2 separate regions of the Homo sapiens genome follow, and region 1 is linked to region 2. A link means that fine-mapping ties the variant in region 2 to the expression of a gene that starts in the linked region. Tissue or cell type: whole blood. Region 2 holds a variant in brackets; the other region holds the start of a gene. All regions are shown on one strand. Distances are from middle to middle.

Evidence for each region. PIP is the estimated chance that this variant, and not a neighbour inherited with it, causes the effect.
Region 1: LPGAT1 starts here. The variant in region 2 is fine-mapped to the expression of LPGAT1 in whole blood (INTERVAL, PIP above 0.99). The same link has a PIP of 0.9 or more in monocytes.

What each region holds. Positions count from the first base shown.
Region 1 is chr1:211,826,397-211,834,392 of GRCh38, reverse strand. LPGAT1 (lysophosphatidylglycerol acyltransferase 1) reads left to right here and starts at 3,630. Exons shown (of 8, transcript NM_014873.3): 1 at 3,630-3,820; 2 at 5,070-5,334. The coding sequence starts at 5,097. LPGAT1-AS1 (LPGAT1 antisense RNA 1) reads right to left here and starts at 3,432. Exons shown (of 6, transcript NR_135820.1): 1 at 3,353-3,432; 2 at 2,981-3,137. RefSeq lists a silencer at 3,446-4,205.
Region 2 is chr1:211,961,017-211,969,012 of GRCh38, reverse strand. It overlaps INTS7 (integrator complex subunit 7), which reads left to right. Exons shown (of 20, transcript NM_015434.4): 14 at 306-500; 15 at 1,032-1,135; 16 at 2,515-2,583. Among named protein-coding and RNA genes, the nearest start is that of INTS7, 71 kb to the left of the region's middle. RefSeq lists enhancers at 1-478, 479-979. The variant TA/A (reference allele first, on the strand shown) is at 3,827.

The sequences.
Region 1 (7,996 bases), 130 kb after region 2:
GGATAATTTTAGCCTTAAGAAGGGAAAAGAGAAGCTAGCCGAACAGGAGAGGAGCATGGAGGAGACACAATTGTTTACTTTATAGTATTGTTTAGGGTCAATCATGTTAATAAAAAGAATTGCTGAAATGGCTGAGAGTTGCAGTCAAGTCTGGAGGATTTTTTTTTTCTTTGAGACAGAGTCTTGCTCTGTCGCCCAGGCTAAAGTACAGTGGCATGATCTAGGCTTACTGCAACCTCTGTCTCCCAGGTTCAAGCAATTCTCGTGCCTCAACCTCCCGAGTAGCTGGGATTACAGGCGGGTGCCATAACGCTCGGCTAATTTTTGTATTTTTAGTAGAGGCAGGTTTTCGTCATGTTGGCCAGGCTGGTCTCAAACTCCTGACCTCAAGTGATCTGCCTGACTCAGCCTCCCAACGTGTTGGGATTACAGGTGTGAGCCACCACACTCAGCCAAGTGTGGATGATTTGGCTCACCCTATCTGAAAAATTTTAAGGTTATAAGCCCTGGAGCATTTTATATAAAATAATTATTGACATGAATATAGAAGAGAACATCCATATATATTTCCATTTTTTGTTTGAAGTTAAAGCTGACAACAGTCAGAATGCATGACTCTTTTGGGCTGCTGATTTCAAGCCTGCAACTGTTTCCTAGCAATGTAGGGGGCCTGTGCCAAGTCATTGAAGGTTATTGCTGGTAGGGTTTCTCCCTAGACAGGAAATAGTTCACTGGAGCTTTAGTGCAGAAACCAACACAGGTAGGTAAAATGTTTTTATAATTGCCACTAGGAAAAAGAGAGGGCCCAGGGGGTACTCTTCTGCCCAAGGGAACCTCTCCCTGGTTATAACCTAATTTGTTGTGTGTATGTGGACTAGATGGGTGGAATTCAACCTTCTAAGGTATTGTGGTTATATTGCTTTCAAATGACTGGCGATTCCAAGAAATGTAAGAAATCCTCTTTCTTTTTCAAAGGACCATTCTCTTGTGGTTCAAATGTGGGCTTTTGAAACAGAAACAATAATGTCTGTGGCTATAGGGTGGGGTCTGTTCATTTCCCTCTTTTCTCTATTGGAGTGTACATGAAGGTGTTGAAATTGTTGGCTTCATGTTTGTGTTTTGATAAAGATGGCTCTAAGGTAGCAGGATAGGGGACTAGAAGCTAACTAGTCATTGAAGAAGATCCTTGTTTTCCACAGAACAGTCTACCCTGGAGAACTGGCTGTTCCAATCTTCCTGTTACAGTCATTCAGAGCATTCATACATCTCTCTGTCCATGGTGCAATAAAATAGGCTATGGAACAATCTCAGGAGGCTTCCTAAGTGGTTGAAAGGAGGCAGGGCAAAAAAATTGTAGTATAGGCAAGAGGAAGGTAAAACTAACTAAAACGAACTTCGAAATGCAAGAAATAAACACAAGCATCATCTGAAATTGTTCCCTTAAGAAGTCAGCCCTAACAGTTTCTTATCTATTATAGCAGCTGAATTATCTTGAAACTGATATTGTGGTCAGAAAGTTAAGAAGATAACCCCTCTCCTACACTCTTGGCACAAAACCAGGGCATATCTATACCTGGAACATAATGTGTTGTACTGTTGGTTGAGTTTCAAGAAAAGTCCAATGAGGTTGGAAGCAGTTAATATGAGGATATCTGAAAAGATCAAGGAGATTAGGTATTCCCTACTCCTTCCATAAGGAGGTACTGAAATGGCAGAATTCTGCAATGAGAGATGGTGATCAGCAAGCCGAGGGGACAGGCCTCAGAAGAAACCAGACCTCCCCACACTTTGATCTCTGATCTTGGCCTTCAGAACTTCGAGAAAATAAGTTTCTGTTGTTTAAGCCACCCAGTTTGCAGTATTTTGTTATGGCAGCTCTAGCTGACTAACACACATGAGAACACATATGATCAAATGATTTAAAATTATGAAGGGTCTAGAAGAGAATGTGATCATCTCAGAATACCTCTAAGTCAGGGTTTCTTAAAGCAAGGTCTGCATACTACTTGCATCAGAATCACCTATGACGCTTTTTAAAAAGCAGGTTCTCAGGTCCACTGGACCTAGATTATTAAAATGTTCTGGTATGATGCTGAAGAATCTGTCTCTTTGGTAGACACTTCAAGTGTTGTTTTTGTACACTAAAGAGCCAGAGGTCCTGCCCAACCTCTGGCTCTTTTCTGAGCCTGAAAATGAATTCTGGGCCTGGTACTAATTGCATTTCATCAAGTGCTGCTGTGTCTGGTCCTCTGGCAGATGGTCCCTGATCCAGGAATCACGTGTAAATCCCATTGTAGGTTATCTCTCTCCAGGTGTCAGCCAACGTTTACGCAGCATGTGGGAAAGCTGAATTGCATGGACCAGATGGAATCCTTAGAGTTTATTCTTGATTGTGGAAATAAATATGTACCTCACCTATCTTACTGAAGAATATAATGACATATTTTGAATAATAAAGTATATATATTATCTCTCTCATGAGATTTATTTAAAGATCTTACTACCTTGTCAATAAAGAGAGAATGCAAGGAATAGAATGGGGCATATCTTTCCTTCACCTGTGGACCTAAGAGGAACTGAAATTAGAGAAAGTTGAGAGTCCAGAGCAAACGCTGTGATGAACATTTTCAAAATAGGCAGAATAGGTGGCATTCTGATTCAAATATGGCAGTTCCCTAGGGAGTGTGAAATCTGCCCTGCCCCATCCCCTCCATTTACAAATGTGCTTAAGGGACATAAGGTTTTATAAACAGGATTTTTAAAAACTAAAATTTAGGCAGATCATTTAAGAATGCTCAAGGGGGTAGGTCAATGGACTATTTCTCTATTTTCCTTCAGGTGGTCCAGCCTTTGAACCAGAATGCAGCTATAGTATCCCAAGTGACGGGGTCTGTCTAGGAGTTCCCATGGCCACTGTTTTTTGTCTTTTCGGTTTTTCTTTTTATGGCGGGCGGGGGAGGGCGGGCGGGTGAGTACTTACTTAATGCCAGGCACTTGGTTGTTTTTTCCTTCTTGACTAACCAGATTTCAGTTTCTCTGTGTAGACCATTCATTCCCACTGAGTTTCTTGGTGGGGTGGTGGGGGCGGGGGCGATGAATGGGAAAGTGGAATTGCCATTAATGTTCCAGCTGCTTTCCTGAAACAAGACTTTTGACCGTAAAAAGAATGAATTTGAAACTCTAGACAATAATACACTGCAGAGGTTAAGAAGAAAAGCCATGAGTGCAACCGGGTTTCATTAAGAATGAAAAGTGGACATTTAGCCGTCAAGGAGACAGGTTCCTAGTTTGGGCAGAGAAGAGAGCCCTAACAATGAAAGGCGGCCGTGTTGGCTGAAAGGGGGCTCTCAACTGAAACCAAGGCACTCCTGGGGTGTGAGGATGGGTGTTCATTCCTAGATCTTTCCGAGCGGCCCTTTCCCTCAGTATGTTCTGGACTCACTGAGGTCCTGGCCGAGCGTCCAGGTAGCCCCGAGGGCCCCGACTCGCTGGCGCAGGGGTAGGGGGAGCGGGCCAGGCGGGGCAAGCGGGCCAGGCAGCGGCGGCGGCGCTTTCATTAGAGGGCGCTGTGGGAGCGGCTCCGCCGCAGTCCCGACTCCCGCCGCTTCCTCCCGCCGCCCCTCCCCGCCAGTCCGGGCGAACGCGGCCGGGCCCTTGGGGACCGAGTCTCGGCGCCGCCGGGGAACGGGCGCGGGCCGCGCCACAGCCGGAGCGGGGCAGGGCCCCGCCACCGCCTTCTTCCGCCGGCCCCGCCGCCGGCCATGCATTCTTCCGGCTCCTCTGACTCCCAAAGCCCCGGCTGGGGCCCGGCCAGCCCGAGGTAACCTCCGGCTCCGCGGTCGCAGGCCCCAGAGCGGCAGCGGAGCCGGGCCAGGGGAGGCGCTGGGGGCGGGGAAGGGGGTGTCGTCGTCGCGTGGCCCGGGGAGGCGGCAGCGGCCTGAGGGACGAGGGCGCGGTAGGCCCCGGGGAGGAGGCGGGGGCGCGGGGCATCCGCCCGCCTCCCCGGGACCCGCCCGGGTGACAGGTCCGGCCTCTGAGTCCCCGCCGTCCCTCTGTCCGCAGGCAGCCGCGAGGGGAGTAGGGCGCCAGCGCGCCCGCTCGCGCAGCGCCTCGGGCCGCTTGGGCCGCCACCGCGTCCATGACCGCGACCCCTCGGCGGGGGACACCCGCCCCCGCTCTCCGCAGCCGCCCGCCGTCCGCGCCCGCCGAGGTGAGCCCGGCGCGCGGGCCGCGCCCGCCGCCACGACCCTTCCACATCCGCGGAAACCGCTGCAGGCTCCACCGGCTCCCCGCGCTGCGGTCGCCTCTTCTCTGCCCCTTTCATCATCCCCTGCTTCCTTGCCCTCTGGTCGGAAATCTCATTCTCTTCATCCCCAGTTCCTTGGCTTTTACCTCTTTCTGGCTTTTGCTCCCTTCCCCCTACTCCTGTCCTTCCTCTTTTTCGCATTATAACCCCCTACTTTCTTCCTCTCACCTTGTAAGCTTTTTTTCTAGGCCCCCCATTTTTTTTCTTAAAAAAAAAAGGGAAACAAAAACCCTATTGCTACAAATGAGAATTTTGAGGGTAACTCTTCGCTAGAGCCAGAGACCTTTTAAAGGAATGCATCGGTGTGCAGGAATCGTGGTGGTGAGGAGACTGAGGTCCTCAGTATCTGGGAAATCTTATTGAGGGGACCCTGTTTCGGTCATGTCACTTGTGTCTTCAGTTTGGAGATCCTGAGGTTGTCTGAAGCGAGTGGATCTATTTTTCTAAGTCCAATAGACGACCGCAGTGAGACACGGTGCGGGGACGGCCACCGATTACTGAATGGGAATTGTGTTATCATTTGCTAAATATATTGTGACATACTTCGTGCCTCGGTGAACAGCTCCCTTGACCTTGTGCGGCTCCTCCTCCCTCGCTCTCTGTCCCCCTCTGGAATTTCCCCTGAGAGATCACCGAGGTACTACACCCGGAAAGCTTCGACCCTCGCTGTTTTATTTTGTGCTGGGGGCGATTTCTATGTTGGTGACTGTTTAGATGTATTTAATGAATTTTCCTTTTTAAGTGAATTTTTCTTTCACCCCAGAAAGACAGGACGGAGTCCAGTGTGAGAATGGCTATAACTTTGGAAGAAGCTCCGTGGCTGGGCTGGCTCTTGGTGAAAGCACTGATGAGGTTTGCCTTCATGGTCGTCAACAACCTGGTTGCTATTCCATCCTACATCTGCTATGTAATTATACTTCAGCCCCTTCGAGTGCTGGACAGTAAGCGGTTCTGGTATATCGAAGGAATCATGTATAAATGGCTTTTAGGAATGGTAGCTTCCTGGGGATGGTATGCTGGATATACAGGTAAGAGTGAGAACACTTTTCTTTAATGCATAAGAAAAAATTTGTCAGGAACCATGATTAAATGTATATTACACTTTGGGTTGAGGATGCTTTCATGTCTTCACTATTGAAAAAAATAAAAAGAAAACAGTTCTATTGGGTTTCTCTTCAGAATCTCAGGAAGACCAATGTTTTCAGAAGTATAATTTCATAATTATGTATTGGTAAATTTCTTAGTGTTTTTATTGTGATTGACATACATTTATTAAAACTGGTCTGCAAAAGCTCTGGTAGAGGAATAGGAGTGCGTTGTATAGGACTCGAGAGCTTATAAAGTGAAGATGTAAGATATTTCATCTATTTCATGGAAGATGCCCATAAACATTGGAAATTTAGAAAAAGAATGGGACCATATTTGTGCTAAGATAGTTTAATAAGTTTCTTCATCATTTAACGTGATATTGTACTGTTAGCCTTTTGAGCAAGCAAAAATGGCTTTCTTTTCTCTTACGTATGTTTCTTTTGTTTATTAGAATCTATATTTTATCTCATAAATCTGAGAGTATTAAATATAAAAAATTAAGTTAACTTTGTTAAGCTAATTTATCTTCTGAGTGTCTTTAAATAGATTGTGATTTCTGCCTTTAAATTGCATTTGGGGAAGCAAGAGTAACACTATTCAGAAGTGGACTTTTATAGAACTAAATGAGAAGTGTTTATTTTCTGAGATAAACCTTATATGCTTTGAGAACTTATGCCCTTGCTGTGAAAATTCTGTATCGTTTATTGTATTTATTTGATTTTTTTCCCTTAAGAATTAAGATAATGAAAAAATCATAGAGGTTTTTAGCACTTGTCAGATGTGGAGGCTTTTAGCACAGAAATTCCTACCTGATAGGCAGGCTCCTTGAAGATCATGCAGATGCTGTGGTCAGTAGAGGCTGTAGTTCATAGCTTGGCAGAGTGAGGAGGGGTACTCCCAGGGTCAAGCAGTATGGCAGTTCTCCATCTGAAATTCTGTCTCCCTCTTTCCTGCCTAGGCTGCACCTGCACATTTTATCCACACACGCAAGAGAAGGACTGATAGTATACAGCTTTTATGGAGTCTGACAGACCCTTGCTATGTCTGAGTATTCTCAGTTGCCCCAGATGAAGCCTTTTCTCCTTCAGGCAGTGGCATTTATTTATTTATTTCTCCTTCAGGCAGTGGCATAATAATGCAAGAGCTGAAGCCCCTGGGATAGTGTATGCGTTGCTTCCTTGTCATCTGTCTTGTTGAGATTCCAATGCTTTTTGGATATAGTAGGTGTGCTTCTAGCCCTTTTTTAGGACTTGGTGGTAGCAATAGCAGTGGTAGAGAAAAAACGAAGTTCTAATCTATGGTGCTGAATTCTTACCTGAATTGCACTGCTGTCTTAGAGTTGCTTGGCTTGGTATAGTTTGAGTGTTCCCAAATATATGTTATATGGTACTAGTGGCTTTATTCTTGTATAGTATACTTAAGTTTGCTTGTTTTAAATTAGCTTATAGTATTTTCAGAAACCCGTTCTAGAAGTTCATTCTGCTTAAAATGAAATTACTGAAATGTTTGTGCGTGTGTATAGTGTATTTAATTGTTAGCATGGTGGGAAGGTAAAATTAATTTGGCATTGACCTTGAGATTGGGAGTGCAGTGGTGCTGCTTGAAGTCAAAGTTAGTTGTCCTATGGCCATAGCATAGCTGCAATGTATTTTTCAGCATATTTTCTTGGGGTATCTCTTCCTTGCTGACTATAGAACTGTGTAATTTCTTTTGCCACCTGCTTGGAATGTGGTCTTGGCATGATCTGCATATTTTAGTCTCTCTGAAGCATCTGCTCTTCTTCAGGCTACTGAATTTTGACAATTTGATCAGTTTGTCTCATTTAAATATAGACTGTTTTAATGTATATATTTTAAAAGGTTTTCCTATAGGTAGAATACTTGATTTCAGAGAGCCTGGTCATAGTCTGATCATAAAAGAAAATAGTCAAGAAGTCAAACAAATGTAGGAATGAATTTGGTTGAAAGCCTCAGCTGAGTTTAAAGAAGCACATCTAAGCAGAGGTTGATGAACAGGTGTACCCATAAAATAATGTCAGGTGTTATATTAGCCTTTCTTTAGATAATATATTTCACTTCTTCCCTTTACATCAATAGGAGGGTGGGCTTGTGAAGAAGTTCTTTTTTCCCTATGCCCAAGTTTCACAGATGGAAAATTGAACATTGCCAAAGGAATTCTGCTCAGCAGATTAAGTATGTTCATGTTTTAGAATAAAAATTGCCAAAACTTTGTTGAGAAACCACTTATGAGGAAACCTTAAATACTAATTAGGAAGCTAAAAATTGAATATTGGTATATTGGTATAGAATGAATATATATATATATATATATCTTTTTCCAAATTATGACATTCCGTGTAATATGAGTGAATTACTCAGCTCTGCTGATGAGGACTTATGTTGATTATCTAACCTACACAGCCCCATATAGTAGCCACTGGCTGCATGTCACTGTTTAAATTTAAATTAATTAAAATGAAATAAAATTTAGCATTTAGCTCCTCAGGCACACCAACCACATTTCAAGTGCTCAGTACTAGGTGGCTAGTGGCTACTGTATGGACAGTGCAGATACAGAACACTTCTATCATCACAGCAAGTA
Region 2 (7,996 bases):
GCACCTGGCCGTGATTATCTTCTTGATGATGTTCTTGACAATTCACATATTATGGGGTCTTTGTGAATGTAGGCAGTAAGGAACCTTTGAATAGTGGTTGTACATACAGTTTTTCAGAGCTGGTGTTTAATAACAATATTTTTCATTCTAATATTACATTATTCTTTTTATCATTTAGGTCTTTATCCGTCAGTGTTTTTAGAGAACTACTGCACTTGACCACAAACTGATAAATACTTGGTACTGCCCCATCTCACTGTTCTGTTTACTTTGTCTTAAATATCTCTTTTTTTTTTTTTTCCCAGGCAGCTAGTACACCACTGAATCCTTTAAGCTTTCAGTGTGAATTTGTAAAACTCAGGATTGACCTTTTACAAGCCTTCTCTCAACTTATCTGTACTTGTAATAGCCTGAAGACAAGCCCACCACCTGCAATTGCCACAACAATTGCCATGACCTTAGGAAATGACCTCCAGAGGTGTGGTCGCATCTCCAATCAGGCATGTCTTAACTTTCAGTGCATTTTTTATTTACACTTTAGAGGTTTTCGAAGTTATAAGATGAAAAGTTGTAAAATATAAAATCAGTGGTTTGACTCAGACATTATCATAAATGTTTATTCACTCAACTGTCTGGCTAAAAAATAGGCTGATGTGTTATTAGAAAGATAAAGTGATTCATGTTATCTCAATGGGTGCTACATATTTATATAAAGAGAAAGGACAGATTTTTTTAAAAACTTGAGAATGTTTATAACTAAATTATTTTAGTGGAACTTGAAGACGCTAAAATACAAATGTTTTTGTTTCTATATGTCATATATAATAATCTTGTGAACATGTATAGTTTCATTTGCCATTTTTGTTTTTATTTAACAAAGTTTATGAAAATGAATGGAATGACAGTGAAAAGATGGCAGTATTTTTTTTGAATTGTTATTGTTTGAAGGTGCTTTTTTTTGTTTTGGTTTTTGTGTTGTTTATACAATAATGATAGCATGTTTGTTTGTCATAATTGATTTTTTTTTATAGATGAAACAGTCCATGGAAGAATTTCGAAGCCTTGCTTCTCGATATGGAGATCTTTACCAGGCATCTTTTGATGCTGACTCAGCAACTTTGAGGAATGTTGAACTGTATCCCAAGCTTGCCCTAGTACTTCTTGTTCTTTTTGGAAGTATTCTTTTAAATACGGACTACCTCAGATATGCTTACCTACAAAATACATGTTAAATAACCCTATAAATTTATTATATAGTTTCCCCTTTAAAATATATAAGCAGAATAATCTTACTTTTTAACTTTACCCAGGATTTTAACAAAAAATGGTGACTCGAAGGTGTCTTTTTTATATCCAGAAAGAGCATCCAAAGCAACATCCAAAGCCAGTGTTGCTTACCTGTGCTCACTTGAGCTACAACAGACAACACAACACATTTTCCCACCAAAGAACATGTATTTCACCTCACCTTTCTTTGTGGCCAACAGTCCTAGTTTTTATCACCTTTATTAATGATCTCTTCAGTAGCATTAGTTGTCACTTTTTTTTTTTTTTTTTTTTTGAGATGGAGTCTCACTCTGTTGCCCAGGCTGGAGTGCAGTGGCATGATCTTGGCTCACTGCAACCTCTGCCTCCTGGGTTCAAGCGATTCTCCTGCCCCAGCCTCCCTAGTAGCTGGGATTACAGGTGTGTGCCACCACAACCTGGCTAATTTTTATATTTTTAGTAGAGACGGGGTTTCACCATGTTGGCCAGGCTGGTCTCAAACTCCTGGCCTCAAGTGATCTACCTAAAAGTGCTGGGATTATACACGTGAGCCACCGTGCCCAGCCTGGTCGTCACTTTTAAACCCTTCCTAAGTTCTCCATATTTTCTTATTAGCAACTTCAAATCACTTTTGAAAGGAAGGAATAGAAATTCTTTTTTTAAGTTGTAGGACTTTCCAATCAGTAGTTCTTGGCATTTAGTTTACTGATTGAAACCCAGTGAATGCTATGGGCCCTCTGCCCTACAAAATGCATATATACAGAGACACCCAAAATGTGCATGTAAGTTCAGGGAGTTGCCAGACCTCTTGAGCACTAGATTAGGAACCTCTGGGATAAAGGCTCCTTAGACCACTGTGTTTTGTTTTTGTTTCTATTTTTTTTTTAACTTTTATCAGTGAAAGCTTTATTTGCTTGTTTGTCTCAAACTCTTATGAAAAACCCCTATATCTAAGACAGATAAAAACAGACTTGCTGTAATTGAATCACGGGGCCTATCACTTGATTTCCCCTTCCCACAGTAGTAGCCTCCGAAGTACCCTTCTTGGAACAGAGTCTGAGGATCACTATTATAGACAATGTATATCCCTTAAAAAGAAAAGGTAGAGCCCCAGACCATTCGAGTTGATAACATTATGATTACCTTCACTAGGCAATCATTAAATCTTGACCAATTTAGTATTCAAGTAATAGAAACCTATAGCGGGTTTCTTCTCTATTTTCGTATGTAACCTTAACATCAATCCAGACAGCAGCAGAGCTGTTTACTGATATCTCATGCAATAGAAGCCCTGATTTTGGATCCAGAATCAGCAAGGTAATTCTAATATTAATAATAGTTGGCGTTACAGAACACTTTCTATACATTGTCTTACCTAATCATCAGAAGACTATTTTGGAGCTAGTACTATGGAAGTAAAAACAAAGTGGAAGAATTCTTCAGCATTTTTTGTGGGTCACATAACTAGTGACAAAACATAGATTTACCTCCTGCCTCCTGTTTTCAAAAAGTTAACATGGAAAGATAACTGGGAAGACATTCTTTGAATATGAGCAATTTCTTCTTGTATATTATAATTATACTACGAAAAATTGAGTTAATGATACAATTAAACTTGAACTTGAGATTTTTTTCCTTTGGCTTCTTAAACCAAAATATCCCTGGTTTTGCTCTTTTAAATTTTTCCCCTCCCCCAATAACTAATTAATTATTCAAAATAGTTGTTTTCATTAAAGAATGATTCCTTTTTCTTTTCCTATTATAGTATTCTCTTTTGGAATATACATTTTCTTTCTTTTTTAACTTTTAAGTTCAGTGTTACATGTGCAGGTTTGTTATATAGGTAAACTCGTGTCACCGGGGTTTGTTGTACAAATGATTTCATTGACCAGATTTTAGGCTTAGTACCCAATAGTTATTTTTCTGGTCCTCTTTTTCCTCCCACCTTCCACCCTCAGGTAGGCCCCAGTGTGTGGTGTTCCCCTCTATGTTTCCATATGTTATCATTTATCTCCCACTTCTAAGTGAGAACGTGTGGTATTTGGTTTTCTGTTCCTGCGTTAGTTTGCTGAGGATAATAGCTTCCAGCTCCATCCATCTTCCTGCCAAGGACATGATCTTCTTTTTTATGGCTGCGTAGTATTTCATGATGCATATGTACCACATTTTCTTTATCTGGTCTGCCATCGATGGGCATTTAGGTTAATTCCATGTGTTTGCTATTGTGAGTAGTGCTGCAGTGAACATATGTGTGCCTGTGTCTTTATGATAGAATGATTTCTATTCCTTTGGGTATATACACAGTTATGGGATTTCTTGGCCGAATGGTAATTCTGTTTTTAGCTTTTTGAGGAATCACCACAGTGCTTTCCACGATGGTTGAACTAATTTACACTCCCGCCAACAGTGTATAAGGGTTCCCTTTTCTCTGCAACCTCACCAACTTCTGTTATTTTTTGATGATGTAATAATAGCCATTCTGACTGGTGTGAGATGGTATCTCATTGTGGTTTTGATTTGCATTTCTCTAATGATCAGCGATGTTGAGTTTTTTTTTTTT[TA/A]TGTGCTTGTTGGCCATGTGTATGTCTTTGAAAAGTGTTCATGTCCTTTGCCCACTTTTTAATGGGCTTGTTTTTTTCTTGTAAATAATTCAAGTTCCTTATAGATGCTTGATATTAGAACTTTGTCAGATGCATAGTTAGAAAAATTTTCTCCCATTCTGTAGGTTGTTTGTTTAATCTGTGGATAGTTTCTTTTGTTGTGCAGAAGCTCTTTAGTTTTATTAGATCCCATTTGTCAATTTTTGCTTTTGTTGCAATTGCTTTTGGCATCTTTGTCATGAAATCCTTGCCCATGCCTAGTCCTGAAGGTTGTCTTCCAGGGTTCTATCATTTTGGGTTTTACATTTAAGTCTTTAATCCATCTTGAGTTGATTTTTGTCTGTGGTGTAAGGAAGGGGTCCAGTTTCCATCTTCTGCATATGACATCGGTTATCCCAGCACCATCTATTGAACAGGAAATCCTTTCCCTATTGCTTGTTTTTGTCAGCTTTGTCAAAGATCAGATGGTTGTAGGAGTGTGTGGCCTTGTTTCTGGGCTCTCTATTCTATTCCATTGGTCTGTGTGTCTTTTTGTATACCAGTACCATGCTGTTTAGGTTACTGTAGACTTGTAGTATAGTTTGAAGTTGGGTAGCCTGATGCCTCCAGCTTTGCTCTTTTTGCTTAGGATTGCCTTGGCTGTTTGGGCTCTTTTTGGTTCCATATGAATTTTAAAATAGTTTCTTCTAATTCTGCGAAGAATGTCGTTGGCAGTTTGATAGGAATAGCATTGAATCTATACGTTGCTTTGGGCAGTATGGCCATTTTAACAATATTGATTTCTCCTATTCATGAGCATGGAATGTTTTTCCGTTTGTTTGTGTTATCTTTGATTTCGTTGAGCAGTGTTTTGCTTTCATCTCCCCAGTTAGCTGTATTCCTAGGTATTTTATTCTTTTTGTGACAGTCATGAATGGGAATGCATTCCTGATTTGGCTTTCAGCTCGACTGTTGTTGGTATATAGGAATACTAGTGATTTTTTATATTGATTTTGTATCCTGGATCTTTGCCGAAGTTGTTTATCAGCTTAAGGAGCTTGTGGGCCAAGACTATTGGCTTTCCTAGATATAGTATCATGTCTGCACACAGGGATAGTTGGACTTCCTCTCTTCTTATTTGGATGCCCTTTATTTCATTCTCTCACCTGATTGCTCTGGCCAGGACTTCCAATACTATGTTGAATAGGAGTGGTGAGAGAGAGCATCCTTTTGTTATGCCGGTTTTCAGGGGGAATGCTTCCAGCTTTTGCCCATTTGGTATGATGTTGGCTGTGGTTTTGACATAGGTGACTCTTATTATTTTGAGGTATGTTTCTTCAATTCCTAGTTTATTCAGAGTTTTTTTTTTAATATAATGGGATATGGAATTTTATCAAAAAGCCTTTTCTGCATTGATTGAGATGATCATGTGGTTTTTGGCTTTAGTTCCATTTATGTGATGAATCACATTTATTGATTTGGATGTGTTGAACCAACCTTGCATCCCAGAGATAAAGCCTACTTGATGGTGGTGGATAAGCTTTTTGATTTGTTGCTGGGTTCAGTTTGCCAGTATTTTTTGAGGATTTTTGCATCAATGTTCATCAGGGATATTGGCCTGAGGTTTTTGTTGTTGTGTCTCCACCAGGTTTTGGTATCAGGGTGATGCTGGCCTCGTAGATGAGTTAGGGAGGAGTCCCTCCTCCTTAATTTTTTTGGAAAAGCTTCAGTAGGACTGGTACCAGCTCTTCTATGTATACCTGGTAGAGTTTGACTGTGAATCCATCTTGTCCTGGGCTTTTTTTTTGGTTGGTAGGCTGTTTATTACTGATTCAATTTCAGAGCTCATTATTTGTCTCATCAGGGATTCAGTTTCTTCCTGGTTCAGTCTTGGGAGAGAGTGTATGTTCAGGAATTTATCCATTCCTTCTAGATTTTCTAGTTTGTGTCCATAGAGGTGTTCATATTTCTGTGGTGTCAGTGATAATATCTTCTTTGTTGTTTCTAATTGTGTTTACTTGGATCTTCTCTCTTTATTAGTCTAGCCAGCCGTCTATCAAATAGATACTAATTTTTTTTCAAAACACCAACTCCTGGATTTGTTGATCTTTTGAATTTTTTTTGTGTGTCAGTCTCCAATTCAGCTCTGATTTTGATTATTTCTTGTCTTCTAGCTTTGGGGTTGATTTGCTCTTCATTCTCTAGTTCTTTTAGTTGTGATGTTACTTTGTAAATTGAGGTCTTTCTAACTTTTTGATGTAGGTGTTTAGTGCTGTACATTTCCTTCTTAACACTAGCTGTGTTCCAGAGATTCTGGTATGTTGTTTCTTTGTTTTCATTAGTTTCAAAGAACTTCTTGATTTTTGCCTTAATTTCATTTCTTGCCAAAAAATCATTCAGGAGCACGTTGTTTAATTTCCATGTAATTGTATGGTTTTGAGCGATTTTCTTGGTCTTGATTTCTAATTTTATTGTGCTGTGGTCCAAGAAAGTGGTTATTATTTTCATTCTTTTTCATTTGCTGAAGATTGTTTTGTGTCCAACTGTGTGGCTGATTTTAGAGTATGTGCCATGAGATGATGATGAGAACAATGTATATTCTGTTGTTTTTGGGTGGAGAGTTCTGTAGATGTCTATCAGGTCCATTTGATCCAGTGCTGAGATTAAGTCCTGAATATCTTTGTAATTTTCTGCCTCAGTGATCTAATACTGTCATGGAGTGTTGAATTCTCTCACCATTATTGTGTGGGAGTCTAAGTCTCTTTGAAGGTCTCTAAGCACTTGCTTTATGAATCTGGGTGCTCCTGTGTTGGGTGCATATGTATTTAGGATAGTTAGGTCTTCTTGTTGAATTGAACCTTTTACCATTATGTAATACCCTTGTCTTTTTTTTTTTTTTTTTTTTTTAATCTTTGTTGGTTTAAAGTCTGTTTTGTCTGATTTAGGATTGCAACTGCTGCTTTTTTCTATTTTTCATTTGCTTGTTAGGTTTTTCTCTATCTCTTTATTTTGAGCCTATGGATGTAATTGCATGTGAGATGAGACTCTTGGCATACCATTGAGTTTTGGTTCTTTATCCACCTTGCCAATCTGTGCCTTGTAATTGGGGCATTTAGCCAATTTACATTAAAGGTTAGTATTGATGTATGGATTTGATCCTGTCATCATGATAGCAGCTGGTTATCATGCAGGCTTGTTTGTGTGGTTGCTTTATAGTGTCTCACTGGTCTGTGTACTTAAGTATGTTTTTGTAGTGACTGGTCTTTCCTTTCTATATTTAGTGCTTCCTTCAGGAGCTCTAATAAGGCAGGTCTGGTGATAACAAATTCCCTCAGCATTTGCTTGTCTGAAAAAGATAGTATTTTTCTGTCACTCATGAAGCTTAGTTTGGCCGGATATGAATTTCTTGGTTGGAATTTCTTTTCTTTAAGAATGTTGAGGCCGGGCAAGGTGGCTCATACCTGTAATCCTAGCACTTTGGGAGGCCGAGGTGGGAGGGTCACTTGAGGTCAAGAGTTTGAGACCAGCCTGGCCAACATGGTAAAACCCCGTCTCTACTAAAAATACAAAATTAGCCGGGCATGGTGGCACGTGCCTGTAATCCCAGTTACTCAGGAGGCTGAGGCAGGAGAATCTCTTGAACCCGGGAGGCAGAGGTTGCAGTGAGCCAAGATCATGCCACTGCACTCCAGCCTGGGCAACAGACCAAGACTCCATCTCAGGAAAAAAAAAAAAAAGAATTGAATATTGGCCCACAGTCTCTTCTGGCTTGTAGGGTTTCTGCTCAAAGGGGTCTGCTGTTAAGTCTGATGGACTTCCCTTTGTAGGTGGCCTGACCTTTCTAGCTGCCTTTTTTTTTCTTTTTTCATTGCGACCTTGGAGAATCATGATTATATGTCTCGAGGATGACCTTGTGAAGTATCTTACTGGGGTTCTCTGCAGTTCCTGAATTTGAATGTTGGCCTCTTTTTCTAGGTTGGGGAAGTTCTCGTGGATGATACCCTGAAATATGTCTTCCAAGTTGCTTCCATTCTCCCTATCTCTTTCAGGACATCAGTGAGTTGTAGATTCGGTTTCTTTACATAATCCCATATTTCTCGGAGGTTTTGTTCATTCCTTTTCATTCTTTTTTCTCTATTTTTTTTTCTTTT